Linked DNA regions of Homo sapiens. The protein of the gene in region 1 purifies or fractionates together with the protein of each later gene. This does not show direct contact. Each region holds a gene or a part of one and is shown in the gene's direction. Other genes may lie near its edges. The genes, in order: KIN, DNAJC17 and BUD13.

Region 1 (3,652 bases):
TGATCCTCCTCTCTCGATCTCCCAAAGTCCTGGGATTACAGGTATGAGCCATCATACCCAGGCCAAACAAAATTATTTAATGCTTTTCTATTGACTGCACAAAACTCAGCCTCTTTCGCATGACATTCGGGGTACTTCAAAAATTAGCCAAACCTTATTTTGGTTTCCCAGCCACCTCGTCTCCCTTATTCTACTCTACCCTCACTCTCACTCTCATTTTTATCAGCCATAAATTTTAGTCAAATTAGGCCATTTCTCAGATCTGTGAGGCTTTCATGTTTCTGTGCCAGCTGGAAATAGCTTTCTCTTGCAGTTCACCTCTAGGGTTCTACTTATCCTTCACTGACCACAATGAAATCACCTCTGGGCATCTCCTGTGACTCTTTCAATGGTATTTTGTTACACTTCTTCTTCAGTTTAACTTTTGTTATGATTGGTTATGCTAGATTGTAACCTCCTTGAAGGTTAAGATTTATGTCTTATTCACCCACGTTTATCTAGCACTTAATACGGTGTACCCAGCTCAGAGGGACATATTAAGTGCCAATTTCATGTGGAATCAGGGCAGTTTTGTTGTCATAGATAGACTGGGGTCATTATGCCACCATCAGTGGCACTAACAGACTTCATGAAGGACCCATTCCAAAGGTATGTGGTAACTGTTTCTATGACTGCTTTACCAAGACAAAAAATTTCAACTCCCAACTGACTTTTAACTTAATCCTTAAAAGCTATAATATTTTGGAGTTCTTTCCTTGATCAGTTTTTAAAGGTTCATAGCCATATTCATGTAGATGTTTCACATATCATTTGGACATTAAAACTATACTACTGGCTAGATGCAGTGGCTCACGCCTGTAGTCCCAGCACCTTGGGAGGCTGAGGCAGGTGGAGATCACCTGAGGTCACGAGTTTGAGACCAGCCTGCCCAACATGGTGAAACCCCATCCCTACGAAAAATACGAAACAAAATTAGCCAGGCGTGGTGGTGGACCCCTGTAATCCTGGCTACTTGGGAGGCTGAGGCAAGAGAATCACTTGAACCTGGGAAGTGGAGGTTGCAATGAGCTGAGATCACACTATTGCACTCCAGCTTGGGTGACGAGAACGAGACTCTGTCTCAAAAAAAACAAAAACAAAAAACTGTACTACTGCTTAAATTTCAAAAAGATGATGCTATATGTTTGTAGAAATTACCTTAATGCTTTCCTTTCTTTCTTTATTAGGGAATTCCGAAATGACTTTCTAGAACTTCTCAGGAGACGCTTTGGTAAACATTTTAAATATTGTGCAAATAACAGCTTTATAAATGGCATAATCTTCTGATGATCATCAGTGTCATATTTTGTTCTCAGGCACTAAAAGGGTCCACAACAACATTGTCTACAACGAATACATCAGCCACCGAGAGCACATCCACATGAATGCCACTCAGTGGGAAACTCTGACTGATTTTACTAAGTGGCTGGGCAGAGAAGGTAAGAATGAGATTTTAAAGTTGCTTTTTCTTTCCCACTTCTAATCTTCATAGGATGAGATGTTTGGGATAAGAAAAGAGAAAAAAAATTGGGTCAGTGTTTTGCTTTTTCATCGTGTTAGTTGATTCCATTTTGGGAGCATAATTTCTGCCTTAAGTTAATAGAACATCATATAACTGTTGGACATTAAATACTTAGATAGAACTGAATAAATACTATGCAAGGTAATACAGTTGTCTCTCAGTATCCGTGGGGGATTGGGTCCAGGACCCCTTGCTGATAACCAAAATTCACAGATACTCAAGTCCCTTATATAAAATAAAATGATGTAGCACTTGCATGTAACCTATATACATCCTCCCACATACTTTAAATCATCTCGAGATTTCTTATAATATTTAATACAATGTAAATAGTTTTTATACTCTATTGTTAGGGAAAAATGGGAAGGAAAAAATGTCTGTGCATGTTCAGTACAGATGCAACCATCCGTTTTTCTTTTTTTGAATATTTCTCACCCACGGTTGGTTGAATTCACATACAGTATCTAAATTTCATTAAATATAAATATGGAAAATCCCATTTGCTGCATGAATTTGTGTATTTGAATGTGTTTTAGTGTATTTGGTGTTTTGTTTTGTTTTGTTTTTGAGACTGAGTCTCGCTCTGTTGCCAGGCTGAAGTGCAGTGGTAGGATCTTGGCTCACTGCAACCTCTGCCTCCTGGGTTCAAGTGATTCTCCTGCCTCAGCCTCCTGAGTAGCTGGGATTACAGGTGTGCACCACCACGCCCAGCTAATTTTTGTATTTTTAGTAGAGATGGGATTCACCATGTTGGCCAGGCTGGTCTTGAGCTCCTGACCTCAAGTGATCCACCTGTGTTGGCCTCCTAAAGTGCTGAGATTACAGGTGTAAGCCACTGCGCTCGGCCTGATTTGTGTGTGTTTGAATGAATAAATATGCAGAGGTGAAACACATTCATATTTATGTTTTGCTTTGATTGTATGCTAATTTATGGCAGTGGCTGTTTTTTTAAGGCTTGTGCAAAGTGGACGAGACACCAAAAGGCTGGTATATTCAGTACATAGACAGGGACCCAGAAACTATCCGCCGGCAACTGGAACTGGAGAAAAAGAAAAAGCAGGACCTTGATGATGAAGAAAAAACTGCCAAATTTATTGAAGAGCAAGTGAGAAGAGGCCTGGAAGGGAAGGAACAGGTGGGTAAGCAACATCATCCTGAGAAGCAACGTCCAGAGGTCTAAAGAAGCACAATGGCTTGGTTTTTCTTTTTTGTTTTTGTTGTTGTTGTTGTTTTGGAGATGGAGTCTTGCTCTGCCGCCCAGGCTGGAGTGCAGTAGCGCAATCTCAGCTCACTGCAACCTCTGCCACCCAGGTTCAAGCAGTTCTCCTGCCTCAGCCTCCTGAGTACCTGGAACTACAGGCGCCCGCCACCACGCCCAGATAATTTTTGTATTGTTAGTAGAGACAGGGTTTCACCATGTTGGTCAGGCCGGTCTCCAACTCCTGACCTCGTGATCCGGCCGCCTCGGCCTCCCAAAGTTACAGGATTACAGGCGTGAGCCACCGTGCCCAGCCAGCTTGTGTCTTTTCAGCGTTGAATCAAGTTCTGTGGGCACTGTTCCTGAACTAAGAGGAGAACCAGCCTGGTGTCAAAAGCACATTTTTGGCATTGACAAACCTTGGTTTGATTCCTGACATACTAACTTCATAATCTTGTATAATTGCATAATATTTCCAAACCTCAATTTCCTTATATCTAAATAGAGACGCTACCTAATGGGAAGACATATACACAGATAATTTCAACTGATTATAATTAATTCAGTACTGGAGGTAAATGCAGCATGTGGAAACATAGAGAAGCAATGTTTACTCTGGCCTGGGGAGGACAGAGTATTTGAGGGTGGATACAACCCCAGTGCCCAGGAGTCTTGAAGAATCAGTGGGTGCAAGCCAGATGAATGGGGAGGGAAGGAGCTGAGGTGTTAGAATAACTAGGTTGGGGCATTTATTTCAACATATATTTATAAGCGCCTCCGCTGTGCCAGGATTCTTGTAGGCACAGGGAATACTCAGTGAACAAAAGATACAGAAAACTGTCTCCTGTGGCTTACATTTTTTTTTTTTTTGGGGGGGGGACGGAGTCTCACTC
Region 2 (3,652 bases), on another chromosome or scaffold:
GCGCCAGCAGCTTCTCTTTTAGGTGTGCATGGGATTCCCCTTACCCATTGAGCAAGGTTTTCCTGTTTGTCCCTGGGATGAGAGTGAATGGCCATGTCTTCTGTCTGACTCTTCCAGGTAAAGAAGGCGTATAGGCAGAAGGCCCTCTCCTGCCACCCAGACAAAAATCCAGATAATCCCAGAGCAGGTGAGACTCTTCTCAGGGCGTGGGGAGAAAGAAACCCACTCACCCGGGCATTGTGTTTCCCGATGTAAGCTCTGCATGTGAGTGCTGTGGGGTGTAAGCACACATTGCCTGGCTCCAGGCAATGGGTCCCAGGGCTTCCCTCCTGTGAGGGGTGTCTGGTCAGTTGCTGATATGCTCACCCCTCCTTGTTGGTCTGTCATCTGCTGATGTCGGCTTGTCTGCCATCCTGTGACTTCTTTGAAGATTTTTTTTTTTTTTGAGGGAGCACACCATTACGAAGTCTTAACTTTATTTTTCTTCTGTCTTTTTGATCCTTATGTTTAGCTGAACTCTTCCACCAGCTTTCTCAGGCCTTGGAGGTGCTGACCGATGCTGCAGCCAGGGTAAGCACAGCCTCCTTCATCGGAATCGTCCCCCATGGTTAGAGACCACTGCTGCCTCTCAACCTCGGTCCTCTGCCCTTTGCCATGTGGCACAGTCCTTGCTGTCTAAGCCCAGGAGACCCAGTCACCAGGCTGCCACTCTGATGGCTCGTGGGCTAGGGGCCAGGCAGATTGCCGGGGCTCTGTCTTTACTCTCTCACTGACCCTCTGCCCTGTGCCCCTTTCTCCTGCCAGGCTGCATATGACAAGGTCAGGAAAGCCAAGAAGCAAGCAGCAGAGAGGACCCAGAAACTTGATGAGAAAAGGAAGAAAGTGAAGCTTGGTAGGTGCCATCATAGTGCTCGGTGGCCTGTGGTTTCCTGTGGTCATTTTCATTCATCTCCCTCACCTGAAGCTTCACTTCCAGCAACTCATCTCAAAGCCTTTTGGCTCAGGCTCTGGGCAAAACGCTGTTCTTAGAGGTTGGTTCCTAAAGACACTCTTAGGAATAATAACAATAATAAGGTTTAATATTAGCTAAGCATTGTGACAAATGCCTTATTGTCCCTTTAATTATCATAACTATACAAGGAAGTGTGGGTACTAAACCTTTTTTAAGAACATGGTTTTTTGAGACAGGGTCTCACCCTGTCACCTAGGCTGGAGCGCAGTGGCATGATCTCGGCTCACTGCAACCCCCACCCTCTGGGTTCAGGCGATTCTTGTGCCTCAGCCTCACGATAGTGGGACTACAGGCATGCACCACTACGCCCGGCTAATTTTGTTCCGTTTTTTTAGAGATGGAGTTTCACCATGTTGGCCAGGCTGGTCTTAAACTCCTGGCCTCAAGCTATCCACCTCAGTCTCCCAAAGTGCTGGTATTACAGCTGGTGAGCTGCCGCACCTGGCCTCTGAAGCCATTTTTTATAGGCAAAGGAGCTAAGGCACCAAAAGTTTAAGAGCTTGCTGGAGGTGGGATTTAAACTTATCCAGTGTGAGTAAAATTGGTGCTTGTGGCCGGGCGCGGTGGCTCACGCCTGTAATCCCAGCACTTTGGGAGGCCGAGGCGGGTGGATCACGACGTCAGGAGTTCGAGACCAGCCTGGCCAAGATGGTGAAACCCCTTCTCTACTAAAAATACAAAAATTAGCTGGGTGTGGTGGCGGGTGCCTGTAATCCCAACTACTCGAGAAGTTGAGGCAGAGAATTGCTTGAACCCGGGAGGCAGAGGTTGCAGTGAGCTGAGATCACGCTGCTGTGCTCTAGCCTGGGTGACAGAGCAAAACTCCATCTCAAAAAACAAAACAAAACAAAAAAATTGGTGCTTGTATTCACCATTTCTGGCTGAGTCTTCTTCTTCTTTTTTTTTTTTTTAAAGAAAGACGGGGTTTTGTACTGTCACCCAGGCTAGGGTGGCACCATCATGGCTCACTGCAGCCTCAAACTCCTGGGCTCAAGCAGTCCTTCTGCCTTGGCCTCCTGAGTAGCTGGGACTACAGGTGCGAGCCGCTGTGCCCGGCTGGGTCTTTTAATTTGTTCTAACCCCAATTCCTACCCAGACTTTTCACTTTGAGAAGCTCCCTCAGAAGGATTCAAAGAGGTCCAGGCTTTCTCTTCTCTAATAGCTTTATTGAGGTATTCTTTGTATATCACAACATCAACCCATTTCAAGTGTACACTTCAATGATTTTTCGTAAATTTACTAAATGATGCAACTCTGACTATAAATCAGATTTGGAACATTTTCATCAACCCAATAAGATTGCTGCAAGCATTTTTTTTTTCTCACTTAAAAAAAAGTCACTGGTTATAGCAGCATGGTCCAAGCACTCTTTTTTTTTTTTTCTTAAACGGAGTTTCGCTCTTGTTGCCCAGGCTGGAGTGCAGTGGCACGATCTCGGCTCACTTCAACCTCTGCCTCCTGGGTTCAAGCGATTCTCCTGCCTCAGCCTCCCGAGTAGCTGGGACTAAGTTGCGCACCACCACACCCGGCTAATTTTTGTATTTTTAGTAGAGACGGAGTTTTGCCACATTGGCCAGGCTGGTCTCGAACTCCTGACCTCAGGTGATCCACCCCTCTTGGCCTCCCAAAGTGCTGGGATTACAGGCGTGAGCCACCGCGCCTGGCCCAGTCCAAGCATTCTTTACTCAAGTTTCTCCTTTTCCTCTTGCTCTTCAACATCCATATATTTTAATATGTGCATATAGCATCCCAATATCTATTTCTATATTAAAAGAAAAGCAAGTGCCAGGAGACCCCATCTCAAAAAAAAAAAAAAAAAAAGAGAGAGAGAGAAAAGGAGAGTCTAAGTAAGTAAAGTGCACAAACTTCTCTGGACTAAGAGAAGGGTTTCTCACAGCAGCTGGCCTGGCACATGGTTGCAAGCAGGTTTCTCTTGGAAGGTAACGCCCTCACACAATCCAGGACCCGGGGTGATGCCCTAACACTCTGCCCATCCCTGTAGCCAGGTCCACAGTGAGGCTTGGTAAATGTGAGTTGAGGTGGGAGGTAAAGGAGACAGTGAGAACCTGAGCTCAGTGTGTGAAAAGAATCAAAGCCAAAGCAAGTCAAGCTGTGGTGCCAAACCACAGGAATCGAGCCCAGCAGCTCCGCCCATTGGCACCCCTGACACATGGCCCTGGGCTGCTGACATAAGCACCACCCACACCCTGTTCACTAGAGAGAACCAGCTTGGTCAGTGTGAGCTGTTTTTAACTCTTCCAGACCCCTGGCCACTCTGCTAGACCCCATACTTCTGTGCTGTGATTTTTCTCAATGGAAATTGACTCGGGGGCGTGGGCATGGAGGGAGGGGGCAGAGTTACTGTATGATCTCGTCGTGATTGAGACTTTGGGGAGGCAGCCAGAGCTGGGGTGGGCCGAGGCCACATGGAAACTGAACAGACCAGCAGTCTGGTCATTCAACCCTTGTGTCTAGACCTGGAGGCCCGGGAGCGGCAGGCCCAGGCCCAGGAGAGTGAGGAGGAAGAGGAGAGCCGGAGCACCAGGACACTAGAGCAAGAGGTGAGCACTCAGGCACACTGGCCAGAAGGCCACCTGCAGGAGGAGGAGGTGGGGGAGGATGGACCTGGTGGTCGCCGTG
Region 3 (3,652 bases), on another chromosome or scaffold:
CTCCCCCAAGGAGGCCTCAGCATAATTCTTCAGGTGCATCTCCTAGGAGAGTCCGTCATGATTCACCAGATCCCTCTCCTCCTAGGCGAGCCCGTCATGGTTCCTCAGATATCTCTTCCCCCAGAAGGGTCCATAACAACTCCCCTGACACATCTAGGAGGACTCTTGGCTCTTCAGACACACAGCAACTCAGAAGGGCCCGTCATGACTCCCCTGATTTGGCTCCTAATGTCACTTATTCCCTGCCCAGAACCAAAAGTGGTAAAGCCCCAGAAAGAGCCTCTAGCAAGACTTCTCCACATTGGAAGGAGTCAGGAGCCTCCCATTTGTCATTCCCAAAGAACAGCAAATATGAGTATGACCCTGACATCTCTCCTCCACGAAAAAAGCAAGCAAAATCCCATTTTGGAGACAAGAAGCAGCTTGATTCCAAAGGTGAGCATATGACTGTCCATGAGAGGGATGTATGTATCCCTGGGAGCTTTCTTTTGGCCGTTTAGTTGATTTATTAGGTATAAGAATGGAATTTCTTTGGGAAAGTTTTGAAAAGTGAGAGGCTGGGTTTGGGAGAGTTGAACAATTATGGTGGCAGGGAGGAAGGTTTTCATATGTCTTTTTATGTGCTCGCTCCACCCCATATAAAAGTACAATTTATTTGTTGCAGAAGCTTTGGAATGTACAGAAGTATATAAAGATAAAATGTGACACAAAATTCTGTCATTCAGAGGCAATTATTGTTAGTGTTGTGGCCAGGGTCATCTTAGTCTTTTTTGGTTTGCATTTTTTATATAGTTGAGCTCTGGCTGTGTAGAACATTTGTATTGCATGTGCAATCTTGCCTGCTGTCCTTTCTTAACGTAGTCTTCCTCAGGCCATAAAACATCTTTATGTTAGTATAATTTTTAATAGTGTTTAATTACAAATTTAACCATTTTCCTAATAATGAATGTTTTTGGTTATTTCTAAGTTTTTTCTTCTGTAATTCTATAATGAACATCCTTGTACATAAACTGTTGTCCCCATTTTGGATTATTTCCTTATCTACTTCTAGATAGATTTCCTCGAAATTCAACTACTTCTATATAAGTTTCCTAGAAAGCTGAGAAGTTGATGTACTGGGTCAGAAGATGTGGGCGTTTTAAAGACTGTCGATACATATTGCAGAATGCCCTTTGGGAGGTGACTTGTGATGCTTATACAGTCGCTAGAACTTAGGCCTGTGCAGTGAAATTTTTTACTCCCTCTTTTGTTCCTAGGAACTATTTTAATTTTAAAATTAAAGTACTTTGTTATCCTTTAGTCCAAGGATATCAGACTATATTCCAGGTATTTCTGACTTTTGCCACACTATGGAGAGCTGACTACAAGTTATTTTGTCTTTCCATGGGTGGGGTTACTGACATAGAGGAGTGTGTGGAGATTTTACACACCAGTTACAGTCAGTGGTCACTTGGGAATAGAATGCCATATTCTACCTGTTGGTCTTAAAAGTTGTTTCTGACTTTGCTCTTCTCCTGTGCCATCCATACTTATGTTTAGGTTAATGATAATTCTTCATAGGAAAACTAAATAAATATTGTACATTAGCTTGGTAAGTTATCTTTTTAGATTCTTCCAAGGGGATTAAAGAACTCTTTGGCCAGGCATGGTGGCTCAAGCCTATAATCCCAGCACTTTGGAGGCCGAGGTGGGCAGATCACCTCAGGTCAGGAGTTCAAGACCAGCCTGGCCAACATAGCGAAACCCCATCTCTACTAAAAACACAAAAATTAGCTGGGCGTGGTGGCACACACCTGTAATTCCAGCTACTTGGGAGGCTGAGGCACAATAATTGCTTGAACCCAGGAGGCGGAGGTTGCAGTGAGCTGAGATCATGCCACTGCACTCCAGCCTGAGACTGTCTCAAAAAAAAAAAAATAATAATAATGTAAGGAATTCTTTAATTTCTAGGTTCTTCTCCCAGCCATAGGAGATTTCATGTAAGTTCTTCACCTAGAGGACATCAGAGTCACACAGATTCTTTGCTCCTATCCAGGTGACTGCCAGAAAGCAACTGATTCAGACCTTTCTTCTCCACGGCATAAACAAAGTCCAGGGCACCAGGATTCTGATTCAGATCTGTCACCTCCACGGAATAGACCTAGACACCGGAGCTCTGATTCTGACCTCTCTCCACCAAGGAGGAGACAGAGGACCAAATCTTCTGATTCTGACCTGTCCCCGCCTCGAAGGAGTCAGCCTCCTGGAAAGAAGGTCAGGATTTTCAGGAGCCATGTCCTTCTTTTCGTGTGACTCTTCTCTCTCAGCTTTATATATGTCCCAGAGAATCAAGCCAAGAAGAAGGATGTAGCTCTGAGAAGTGTAGTAAATCTTAGTTAAAAGGACCTTTGGAGGTCTTTCCTTCTGAAGGCAAACTGGCTATAACCCATCCCAGATGGACTTACAGATACCAGATTTCCCAAGTAGCTTCTGCGTTTATAGCCTCTTAATTCTACAATCTCATTTTAACAGGTCTAGAAAAACTTCCTATTTTCTTAGGAATAAACCGAGGACTGTAATTTGCAGAGTGAAGTTTGGAGCACAAGCATTGTGTCAAACGGATCACATACAGAAATTCTCCTTCTGCCACTTACTGTCTGTGAGATTTGGGCAAGATGCTTAATATCTCTAAACCTCAGTTTCTTTATCTGTAAATTGTGGATAATAGTAGTACCTACTGTGTAAGGTTGTTATGATAATTAAGCCAGTGTAAGTAAAACTCTTAGCACAGTGTCTGGGACAAAGTAAGCATCTAGTGTTAGTGATTTACTAGTATAAATTGGACTATAGGTCTCTGTATCCAGAGCTTAAGGAGAGGCACTTAAAATATGAAACCACTTTTAGAAATCATGTTGTCTGAGAAGTCAATGGTTTGTTTTAAATTCATGATAAGGCTTGATGAATTAGCCAAAAAACCCCAAAATCCATATGAACCTTGAGTAATTATATTGTAAAGAACATTGGTAGTAGTAAAGGAATCTTATTTGTAAGTGGTTAAGAAACAGAATGATAGAGCCTGTGATGTGCATTTTTCTCCCCAGTGCAGACTTATCAGGTAAATCTTGTCTGTAGAAGACTCTGAGAAGACTGGTCCTGGCAGGGTAGACCAGCCTGTTCTTTACCCAGGAAGTGAGATTCTTCTTTTTTAGGGAAAAAAGAGGTCTCTGTTTCAGCTGGACCTCTTGGCATTTTATATATCCATTTAGTTCATGGACAACTTAATATTATTCCAATTTCGTTGCTGAAGGATATCAAGATATACTGTGTGCTTCATTCGTGGGCTGATTTGCTATCTTGATGCTAAGTGGAAATTAGCAAAAAGTTTTCATTTGTTAGATCTTCTGTTATTACCATGAAATATATCCACAATTTAAGGATCTTAGGTTTGCTTGAGTTTGTACTGTAAATGGAATATTTTATCAGTATGGGTCTCTAATGGAAGGCTTAGTGCTTTATACTGGTTTCTGATCAGATGACCTGAGATAGTCTTCATGTGTGCAGTTTATATACTGAAAAGTCAGAAATACAAATGCGTAGCCCTCCATTTAATATATTGTTAGTGTTTCTGCTTATTCTTAAACTTGATGGTTTTGATGATGGTTTTCTTTTATAG

What was found.
Region 2: the proteins of KIN (region 1) and DNAJC17 fractionate together in Homo sapiens (co-fractionation; one large-scale study listed by BioGRID). This does not show direct contact.
Region 3: the proteins of KIN (region 1) and BUD13 purify together in Homo sapiens (affinity purification with mass spectrometry, with the first as the bait; one large-scale study listed by BioGRID). This does not show direct contact.

Annotation. Positions count from the first base shown.
Region 1 is NC_000010.11:7,777,882-7,781,533, reverse strand, and holds part of KIN (DNA/RNA-binding protein KIN17), read left to right. Parts: intron 1-1,226; coding exon 1,227-1,270; intron 1,271-1,355; coding exon 1,356-1,478; intron 1,479-2,514; coding exon 2,515-2,696; intron 2,697-3,652. UniProt on the Homo sapiens protein: Involved in DNA replication and the cellular response to DNA damage. May participate in DNA replication factories and create a bridge between DNA replication and repair mediated by high molecular weight complexes.
Region 2 is NC_000015.10:40,776,463-40,780,114, reverse strand, and holds part of DNAJC17 (dnaJ homolog subfamily C member 17), read left to right. Parts: intron 1-117; coding exon 118-187; intron 188-511; coding exon 512-570; intron 571-804; coding exon 805-892; intron 893-3,487; coding exon 3,488-3,573; intron 3,574-3,652. UniProt on the Homo sapiens protein: May negatively affect PAX8-induced thyroglobulin/TG transcription.
Region 3 is NC_000011.10:116,759,336-116,762,987, reverse strand, and holds part of BUD13 (BUD13 homolog), read left to right. Parts: coding exon 1-435; intron 436-2,035; coding exon 2,036-2,253; intron 2,254-3,652. UniProt on the Homo sapiens protein: Involved in pre-mRNA splicing as component of the activated spliceosome. As a component of the minor spliceosome, involved in the splicing of U12-type introns in pre-mRNAs.